Linked DNA regions of Homo sapiens: regions 2 and 3 are each reported to be linked to region 1. The links are microRNA targets in miRTarBase. Many come from high-throughput screens and were not tested one by one. Region 1 holds a microRNA gene; each other region holds the end of a gene's coding sequence.
Evidence for each region. Region 1 holds the annotated microRNA hsa-miR-204-5p (UUCCCUUUGUCAUCCUAUGCCU, at 1,836-1,857, opposite strand). A microRNA usually pairs through its seed, bases 2 to 8, with sites in the 3' UTR of a target mRNA and lowers its output. Matches are read on the target gene's strand: a 7mer-m8 pairs with bases 2 to 8, a 7mer-A1 pairs with bases 2 to 7 and ends in A, and an 8mer does both.

Region 2: miRTarBase lists UFD1 as a target of hsa-miR-204-5p. The part of its 3' UTR that is shown has no 7-base or 8-base seed match.
Region 3: miRTarBase lists WDR3 as a target of hsa-miR-204-5p. The part of its 3' UTR that is shown has no 7-base or 8-base seed match.

Annotation. Positions count from the first base shown.
Region 1 is chr9:70,808,196-70,811,455 of GRCh38, forward strand. MIR204 (microRNA 204) reads right to left here and starts at 1,889; the gene lies at 1,780-1,889. All of the region lies in intron 6 of TRPM3 (transient receptor potential cation channel subfamily M member 3), which reads right to left.
Region 2 is chr22:19,448,139-19,451,398 of GRCh38, forward strand. It overlaps UFD1 (ubiquitin recognition factor in ER associated degradation 1), which reads right to left. Exons shown (of 12, transcript NM_005659.7): 12 at 1,773-2,606. The coding sequence ends at 2,532. UFD1-AS1 (UFD1 antisense RNA 1) reads left to right here. Exons shown (of 2, transcript NR_186687.1): 1 at 1-187. Among named protein-coding and RNA genes, the nearest start is that of C22orf39, 2.1 kb to the left of the region's middle.
Region 3 is chr1:117,958,979-117,962,238 of GRCh38, reverse strand. It overlaps WDR3 (WD repeat domain 3), which reads right to left. Exons shown (of 27, transcript NM_006784.3): 26 at 3,236-3,260; 27 at 1-2,947. The coding sequence ends at 2,792. The region is part of intron 48 of SPAG17 (sperm associated antigen 17); the gene reads left to right. Among named protein-coding and RNA genes, the nearest start is that of WDR3, 31 kb to the right of the region's middle.

The DNA.
Region 1 (3,260 bases):
ACAACAGTAAACATTGCTGACTTTGAGACCAAAATGCCAGTCAAACATTGGCAACCCAAATCTTTCTAATCTGAAAAGGGAGCTCAAAATTCTTCCCTGAATGTAAAAGTGTCTAAGAAGTCTTAGAATGGTGGACAGCTCTCCTGTTGGGACCTACTTGTTTACAAGAACTATCCCAGTCCCTGAACAACTAATTCCAATGTAGAAAAGTCTCTTTGCTGAAAAAAGGGAGGTCTTTAGCTTGAATAGGAAAATGGGTGAGATAAACATGACAAGTCAATACCAAGAAACCAGTTTCGCTAAAATTTGCTCTGTTCCCTCAAAGTTATTTTTTTGGCTTCATTATTACCTTTATTGACAAAGTAACTTTTCATTAACAAGCATGACAAATATTTCAGTTACACAGCCAACTGTGTCAAGTCGTTTCATATAATGAAAAAGCAGGGATATAGATTGTGTTGTTTATTCCTCACAAATTATTCTTTAGAGGGAAGACCCTCTAAAAGGCGGAGAAAGCTTTAAACATGTTTACTTGACAGCACCTGAAAAATGATGTCATTACAGTCTAAAGTGAACTGATCATCAATTTGGTATTTGTGTTTTGGAAGGCCTTTCCCTTGACTGTTTGAGGCAGTAGAAAGTTTGCATGATTGGGCTGAACAGATTGTAGCACCCACAGAAGGAAATAAGATGTTCTTGATATACAGTCATGTGTTGCATAATGACACTTTGGTCAATGACAGACCACAAATACAATGGTGGTCCCATAAGGTAGTAATAGAGCTGAAAAAGTCCTATCACCTAGTGACATCTTGATGATTCTGACCCTGTGCAGGCCTAGTTTAATGAGTGTGTTTGTGTCTTCATTTTTAAGAAAAAAGTTTAAAAAATACAAAGATAAAAAATTTTAAAGACAGAAAAAAGCTCATAGAATAAGCAAATGAAGAAAATATTTTTGTATAGCTGCATAATGTGCTTATGTTTTAAGCTAAGTATTATTGCAAAATAGTCTAAAAGTTTTAAAACGTTAAAAAGTTTACAAAGTAAAAAAGTTACAGTCAGCTAAGGTTAATTTAGTTTTGAAGAAATAAAATTTAAAAAATAAATTTAGTATAGCCTAATTATACAGTGTTTATAAAGTTTACAGTAGTATACAAAAATATTCTAGCACTCACTCAGTGACTCACCCAGAGCAACTTCCAGTCCTGCAAGCACCATTCATGGTAAGTGCCCTATTAAGGTGTACTATTTGTATCTTTTATACTATGTTTTTATTGTGTCTTTTCTATGTTTAGATACACAAATACTTACCATCGTGTTACAGTTGCCTACAGTATTCACTACCACATAGTAACATGCTATACAGGTTTGTAGCCTACAAGCAATAGGCTATACTATATAGCCTAGGTGTGTAGTAGGTTATACCTTCTAGGTTTGTATAAGTACACTCTATGATGTTCATGACAAAATCACCTAATGATTCATTTCTGAGGATATAGTAACCCCATCGTTAAGCAATGCATGACAGTATATGTAACCTGTCCAGGGGAATCTTTGCTTCCTTTTCAAGTCACATGGTTTGGACCCAGAACTATTAGTCTTTGAGAGTATATTTCACTCCTTCCTAATTCCAGAGCTGCTTGGATGAAGTTCTACTATGACCTTTAACATACAGTGTTTTTCATCTCTCTTATGGGACAGTTATGGGCCCAATGATGGAAAATTTCATGTCATGGTTATCCCAATGCATTTGATGATGGTGCAATGATCAAAAAAGATGCCAGTGATGACAATTGAACGTCCCTTTGCCTTCCCAGCCTCCTTCATATATTCTCAGGCATAGGATGACAAAGGGAAGTCCACGAGTCACATGAAGAAAGACTGTAGCCATGGGTACGCGATCAGGAAGTCCTCTGCTTGCCTCCACCCCCACCCTCCTTTCCATCACCCTGTCCTATGGGTACATGATCAGGAGGTCCTCTGCTTGCCTCCACCCCCACCCTCCTCTCCATCACCCTGTCCTATGGGTACATGATCAGGAGGTCCTCTGCTTGCCTCCACCCTCACCCTCCTCTCCATCACCCTGTCCTGTGGGTAAATGATCAGGAGGCCCTCTGCTTGCCTCCAACCCCACCCTCCTCTCCATCACCCTGTCCTATGGATACACGATCAGGAGGTCCTCTTCTTGCCTCCAACCCCACCCTCCTCTCCATCGCCCTGTTCTATGGGTACATGATCAGGAGGTCCTCTGCTTGCCTCCATCCCCACGCTCCTCTCCAGCACCCTGTTGTATTTCTTCCTAATATTGTTTCTCCACCATCTTGCAACTAACCACCATCTTCTTCCCAAAGTTTTGCTTGATGACTCATTCCAACTGAATCAATGCTCAACCTATATTTGGCACAGAGTTGGTGCTCAAATAGTTGCTGAATGGAATAATGACCCTCAAACTCTCCAAGGTAACCAAACTTTAGGGGAGCCTTTTTAAAAAAATGAGATAATGCTTCCATGTGTAGGATGAAAGGAGAAAGTATTTTGGAATTATGTCAGCCTAGGTTTGCACCCAGCTGTGCCACTAATTGGATTTAAGGCAAAGGCTTAACCTCTTGGAGGTGCCATTTCATCAACTGTATAAAAGGAAGAAAATAATCCCTATCTTGAAGGGTTTTTGTGAGTATTAAAAGAGATAGTATATATGAAAATGCCTAGCATGGTGCTTGGAACCTAAATAAATGCTCATTCCCTCCTAGTAGTATCCCAATAGTGCCGTCAAGCTGTCCTATATGGTATCTTTAGGATGATAAATAATAGGGAGTAACTAATTTCTGATGTGGTTGAATGTCAGAAGAGATAGAGATAAAACAACAGTCATAGGGAGTGATACTGTTAGGAAATTATAAAGGAAATGAAGACTTCTGTGGTTAATTTCTTGGAGTTTAAGAAGAAATTCACATTTTCCATTAATTATACTTACCAACTGAGTCTAACTGGCAACTACCCCAAAATGAATAAAACAAGCGGGAGTCAAGAGAGAAAAACGGCAGGCATCCTGTCAAAAAATAAAATCTTTGAAATTTCTACACCCTGTGGTTGCATACACATTTTATTAAAGCAGATGGATTACCCAATTTACATAAATTTATATACGTGATGGCAACTCAAGTTGCACAGTGAAACCTATGTAGAGCATCATCCAGCCCTTCTGCACCAGCTATATCTTGTCTTATCACTCCTTCAACTGGACAGGTCCTTAAAAATCA
Region 2 (3,260 bases), not on the chromosome of region 1:
TCCCAGATCTGCAGCTCCAGCAGTCTTGCTTGAGCGTCCACTCAGGATGGAGGTGAACTCGCAAAGTAACTGAGATTGGTTGGGCATGACATATGGTGGATCTAGGGTTGAATGACCTCCCCAGGGAACGCAGGCTTGAAGTGGAGGCTGAGAATGCAATCCGAGTACAGCCATAGGCCGGTCAAAGGTATGGAGGCGGTGTGTAGCAGGGGTGAGCGGGGTAGGAGTGGCTTGGATGTCTGTAGTTCTATTCTAAGGGTGCGGGAGACATGTAACATTTACCTTATTCATTTTTCGAGACAGGGTCTTGCTGTGTCACCCAGGCTTAGTGCAGTGGCGTGGCGTGTTCATGGCTTACTGCAACCTCAAACTCCTGGACTCCGAACAGCTGGGACCAAAAGCATGCACAGCCTCACCAGGCTAATTTTTAATTTTTTTTTTTTTTTTTTGTAAAGATGGGGTCTTGCTAAGTTACCCAGGCTAGTTTGGCCTCAAGCGACCCTCTCACTTTGGCCTCCCAAAGTGCTAGGATTATAGGCGGAGCGCCAGTGCCTGGCTGGGACGTTTATAAAAAGGAGCAATGCACAAGAGGCAACAAAGGCAAGTAAAGAGGAGGCTGGTGGGCTTGCAGAAACGCCCTGCAGTACCTATGCTGCGGTTCTCCCACTTCACTGATAACAAATCCTCAGTATCCACTGATACAAATCCTGGGACTGCTGGGCCAGTCCCAGGAATGACACTGGGACAGACTCCCTGGAGGTGGATCAGAAAGCTGCAGTTTTACCAGGGGTCCTGCTGTTGAGGCAGCCGGCTCAAGGACCAAGCCCAAATAAGACACTGAGAGGAAGGCTGCAGGCCAGGGTGCAGGAGTAATGACCAGGATCAGTGCTCCAACTGGCCCCACTGTGTCATTAAAAGGCTCTGCAATGGAATCCATCCTGGTCCAGGCAGGGGAGTGTGCCTCCAGCAAAGGACCAGGCGTTTCACTGCATACACAGCAGGTGTTGCTTAGTGAAGACAAAAACCCAGAGCCAGAGGTACTGTAACATTCTTCATTATGCATAAAGTGACAGTCTGTTAGCTGATGTGATCCTGCAAATGAAGGCTGTCTACCCACCAAGGGTTTCTCCCTCTGCTAGTAAAACTGAGACTTTGTCAGTGGAGGCTCAGGTAAGTCCCCACAGTGCTCATGCCTTCCAAAACCACGCCCATTTCCAGTGATGATGGTTTGTGCCACAGGCCAAGTACTGAACATCATGACACTCATAGACACTCTTCACTGAAGACGTGGATAGACCCTGGGGCCACCATTCTCTCCTCTCTGGAGTGTTGGAGGGGCCCTGACCAGGGCAGGACCCCCATGTCTGGAAGCAGGGTTAGCCCTGGCTCATGGGGGACCCTGCTGGGCTTAGCCATTGCCACCTAGGGATCAGGCAGCCTTGTTTCTTCCTACTTTCTCCAGGAGAAGCCCCAGAGGGACACTTTTCTAATGGTGAGATGGAACACGGAGCACCTGCCAACAGGCCTTCAGTTATGGTCAGAGGCCCAACCACCAGTCTGTGTTAGTACCTAATCAAACATTTAGATTTAGGCTTTAGTTATTGCCTGTTTTTACTTGAAATTCTTGGCTTAGAATTATTCCCAATGGGGCCAGGCACAGTGGCTCATGGGAACAAATTTAAAATAATCAGATTAGCATGTCAAAAGATCTCACGTTATAGAAAGTGAAGATCTAAGACCAAATAAATACTGATAAAAAATACAGGCCAGCAGAAGCTTGGATGATTTAATAAATTAAAATTGGGAGTTGGGGAGTAGGGAAGAAGGAGAGGAACATCTCTTTAGCATTTGTTCATTCTAACATTCACATGTTTGCTTCTCCATGGAGTTGTTTCACTATGAACAGGTTCACTAAGGAGCCAGTTATGTCCATATGAAATGAGAATAAAAGTGCAAACTCATTCAGATCAGGTTCTTCTGAGTGGTGTTTTTGAAAAAAATATGTAAAATAAAAATAGAAACATTCTTTGTCAAATACTTAAATTGCAGCCACAGTAGTGGGACAGCCACTACTTATAGAACACATGTCTATTTAAAGCCTTTTTTTAGGCCAAAGACTGACACCTATGCAATTGATGTAGGAAAAGAAAGGATAAATGAAGAAAAAGAAAGAACACTTCATGTTAGACAATTTAGTCACCTTCATAGGTTTTGACAGAATTAGGGATGCAGAATTGCTCCTGCTGAGGCAGTGGGAGCTCCCCTCAAGCTGAAAGCGTGAAGAGGTGAGGAGGCAGCTATCTACAGGCCCTCAGGGACAGCTCTTTGTCTTTCCCCAAATCAAGCATACAACTACAAAGTCCTGCTGCTCCACTTCCAAGTCAAACTTAATAATTCTTAGGTAACTCTAAATAAATCTTAAGTAACAGAGTATTCTCTGATGAGGCTCGTCCCTGTCAGTGCCAGTAACTAAAAGCCAAGATGTTGCAAATGATTCTTTTATTATTTTCCAATCAGCCAACAGTCCTCACTTAGGGCTTTCTTCCCTTTTTACGCAATGACTGTCCTTCTCCAGAGAAAGCGACGAATCTGCCTCCAGCTTCATCCTAGGTTTGAAGAGAAGATACTATTTTCAGAAACTCCCTGGAGGTTTACAATAAATGCCTTACTCTATGGACTCACGTACCATCCACATTACTCATAAGAAATATCTCAGGCTGGACACGATAGCTGACACCTGTAATCCCAGCACTTTAGGAGGCCTAGGTGGGAGGATCACTTGAGCCCAGGAGTTCAAGACCAGCCTGGGCAACATAGTGAGATCCCATCTCTACCAAAAATAGCTCAGTGTGGTATGTGCCTATGATCCCAGCTACTTGGGAGGCTGAGACGGGAGGATGGTTTGAGCCAGGGCCATAGTGAGCTATGATTGTGCCACTGCTCCAGCCTGGATGGCAGAGCAACAGAGCAAGACCCTGCCTCAAAAAAAAAAAAAAAAAAAAAAGTCTGTAAGTTCATCACCCAAAAACATTTCAGGTCACTTTTCTGTACATGCTTAAAGAATTGTTTTCCCACTTAATTCTGAAATCTCATGCCAATAAACTTCCTGTCTAGTATACTCCCAAGGCTACAGAACTGAATTCTGTAAAAAAGAATTCCATGATGTAGGAGGGCCAGTTTTCTACCAGTGGACATTGTTGTGGTAAGCAGCTTAATGTATTTGCACACAACTCTGATTTTTTTTAGAGCTCAAATTCCTG
Region 3 (3,260 bases), not on the chromosome of region 1:
AACTTGGCTAGGTTCTGTACATGTCACTTTATCATAAAAGTTCTCCTTCTCTTCGATTAGTATAACACTTAGCAGACAGAAACATCTTTACATTCCCTAGCACTATCAGGCTTTTGAGTTATAAATGGTGGCAAAGCTACGGGAAAACAGCAACTTTTAACATAAGAGTAATTATTGATGATGTATACATCTCGAATGCCCTCCTGGAACTTGTTTTGGTTTGGAAACCATCAAAAATGTTACTAGAAAGTGACATTTATGTTCTGATGAGCAACTCTAAGAAGGATATTGAATCAACTTCTGTTCTCATAAAAAATTAAATTTTTTTTCAAGAATTAACTCCTCTCCCTGGTGGCAGGAATAGCTGCCTAAACAACACTGACTCCTTGGAAAGCACCTAGAATGCATTATCCTGCCTGCCTATTCTCTTGCCTTCATAGTTATGCCTTCAGAAACTCTATGCCAAAATTCACTTATTTATTCTGCCCAACAAATAACACCACTGCATCCCTTACTCACTTCAGTGATTGTGTTATGCTCAAGAACATTAAGACTTGTGGTTTGGGACACAAATCGGCAAGCCACAAGGACTGCATATCTGAGCCTAGAAGAAAATGGTGGCCCCACAACACAGTAACTTGGTTGCAATGACCAAATTCAGACAGAAACCATAGTTTTAAATCTTTGGGATTAACAACAACAAAAAAGATAAAAAGCAAAACTGTCTCAAGAAGATACAGAACATCTAAACAGGCCTGTAACAAGAAGTATGATTTAGTCATTTATAAACTTCCCCAAAAGAAAAGCCCAGACCCAGAGGTATCTGTCAATATCTTTTCCTAGAACATTCCCCAAATCCTTACCATGAAGATATACAGTAGACAATCCGTTGAACATGGGTTTTAACCACTTGGCTCCACTGTTATACAGATTTTTTTTTACTATTATTATTTTGGAGATGGAGTCTCACTGTGTTGCCCAGGCTGGAATGCTGGTGGCACTGTCTTGGCTAACTGCAATCTCCGCCTGCCGGGTTCAAGTGATTCTCCTGTCTCAGCCTCCTGAGTAGCTGGGATTACAAGCGCCTGCCACCACGCCCAGCTAGTTTTTTGTATTTTTAGTAGAGATGAGGTTTCACCATGTTGGCCAGGCTGGTCTGGAACTCCTGACCTTGTGATCCGCCTGCCTCGGCCTCCCACAGTGGTGGGATTACAGGCGTGAGCCACTGCACGCAGCCCAGATATTTTCAATAAATATATTGGAAAAATTTTTGGAGATCTGAAACAATGAGAAAAGTTTCAGATGAAAAAAATTAGGAAAAAAGTAGTTATATCATGAATGCACAAAATATATGTAGATACTAGACTATTTTATCATTTACTGCCATAAAATACACGCAAATCTATTATCAACATTAACACACACAAATACAGATCATACATGGTGCAATTCACAGTTTTGGGAGAAATGTAAAATAATGTAAAGATGCAGTATTAAATCATAGCTGCATAAAATGAACTGTAATACACAGTATGTTACTGAAATAATTTCACAGCCACCTCCTGTTGCTATGCAGTGAGCTCAAGTGTTGTGCGTATGCACTTAAAATGCTGTGACACTAATCACCTGTGCATGAACAACTCATCGCCCCAGTAAACTGCATATCACAGTGCTCCCAAAAAGCAGAGAAAAGTCATGACATTACAAGAAAAAGCTGATGCTTGATAAGTACCACAGATTGAGGTCTGCGGCTGTGGTTGCCTGCCAATCCAGACAGACAATTCATTTTATAAACAGATGACATACACTTATAGTATTGATAAACACAGTAAATATATTTTCTCTTCCTTATGATTTTCTAAGTAACATTTTCTTTTCTCTAGCTTACTTTAAGAATACAGTATACAATATATATAATACATCAGTCAGGCTCCCAGTCAATAACAGGCTACTAGTACTTAAGACTTTGGGGAATCAAAAGTTATATGCAGATTTTTGACTGTGCGGGGCGTAGGGGTGGGTCAGTGCCCCTACCACCTGCATTTTTCAAGTGTCAACTATATATATGTATGTGTACATACACATACACATACACACACACACACACACACACACACACACACACACACGAGTGTATTAATTCCTCAGAAGCCCAGCCAGGCATCTTAGCTTGGCTACTTTTTAATTAGAAACAACTATTTTATTCAGAAAAGTATAAACAGTTAGCAATTAGAATCTTCTTATATACAGACATAACTTGCAGAAGGTTAAGTCTGAGGACGCTGTTCTGGGTAATTTTTACAGTCCTTTTTAGCTCTAAGATCCATGACACTGCATTTTTATGGCCAAAGGGCAATCAATTATGCACCTGGTTGTCTCAATAGGCAGTAAAACCTAATATAAATAAATGACAAATCATCTGCCATAAAAAAATACGAAAAACTTTTGAAATGTTAATTTCAACTCCAATGAAACAAATACCTAATTAAAACAATTATTTATTCCCTGCTAGAATATAAAGGGAACAACAAGCTTGAGCTGCAAGGCTCAAGCTTTGAGAGCACAGAAAGATTTTTAAACTAATAATGCATTTTAAGTCCAAGAAATGGAGCCAGCCCATAATCTCATGTTGGAATTCCCTCAGGCAAAGCTGGAAACCACATCCTGATATCATCTGCAATGCGATCTTCTGTTATTTGGTATTTTTAAGATGACGCCAACTCTTCTGTGCTTAGTTTAGGAGTCCTTTAAAGGAAAAAGTTGAAAAAAAAAAAGATACCACATTTCAGTTCTAAGTCAACGTTAGAATCAACTTCTCCCTCTTTTTCCTCTTCCTCTTCTTCTCTTCCAAGTGGCTAGTAGCATCAGCAAAAAACATAACTTCACTTTTTGCCTCGCATTCCCTCTTGAGATAATCAAGACCAGCCATATTGAAGCCGATAACATCCTGGAGTGCAATACAAGAAATATTAAAAAATTTTCTCCCACTTCAATTCATTATAGCAGCGTATGAGAGTTAGGGTAACCAAAGCTTCAGGTGTTGTTACTTATCTTTCCCTCATTAAGAACTTTTCTTGTTTGTTTTTTCTATTCCTACTAATTCTAACAAAAACTATCTCAAATATGGATTTATCGGTGGTGGGTATTGCTAAAGACAAAGCACAGCATACTATACTATTTCTAAATCACACTAGGAATTTGCCTCATTATTTTATCTCTATACAAAGACACTTACCCGGACTTGGCTGACTTTTGAAATA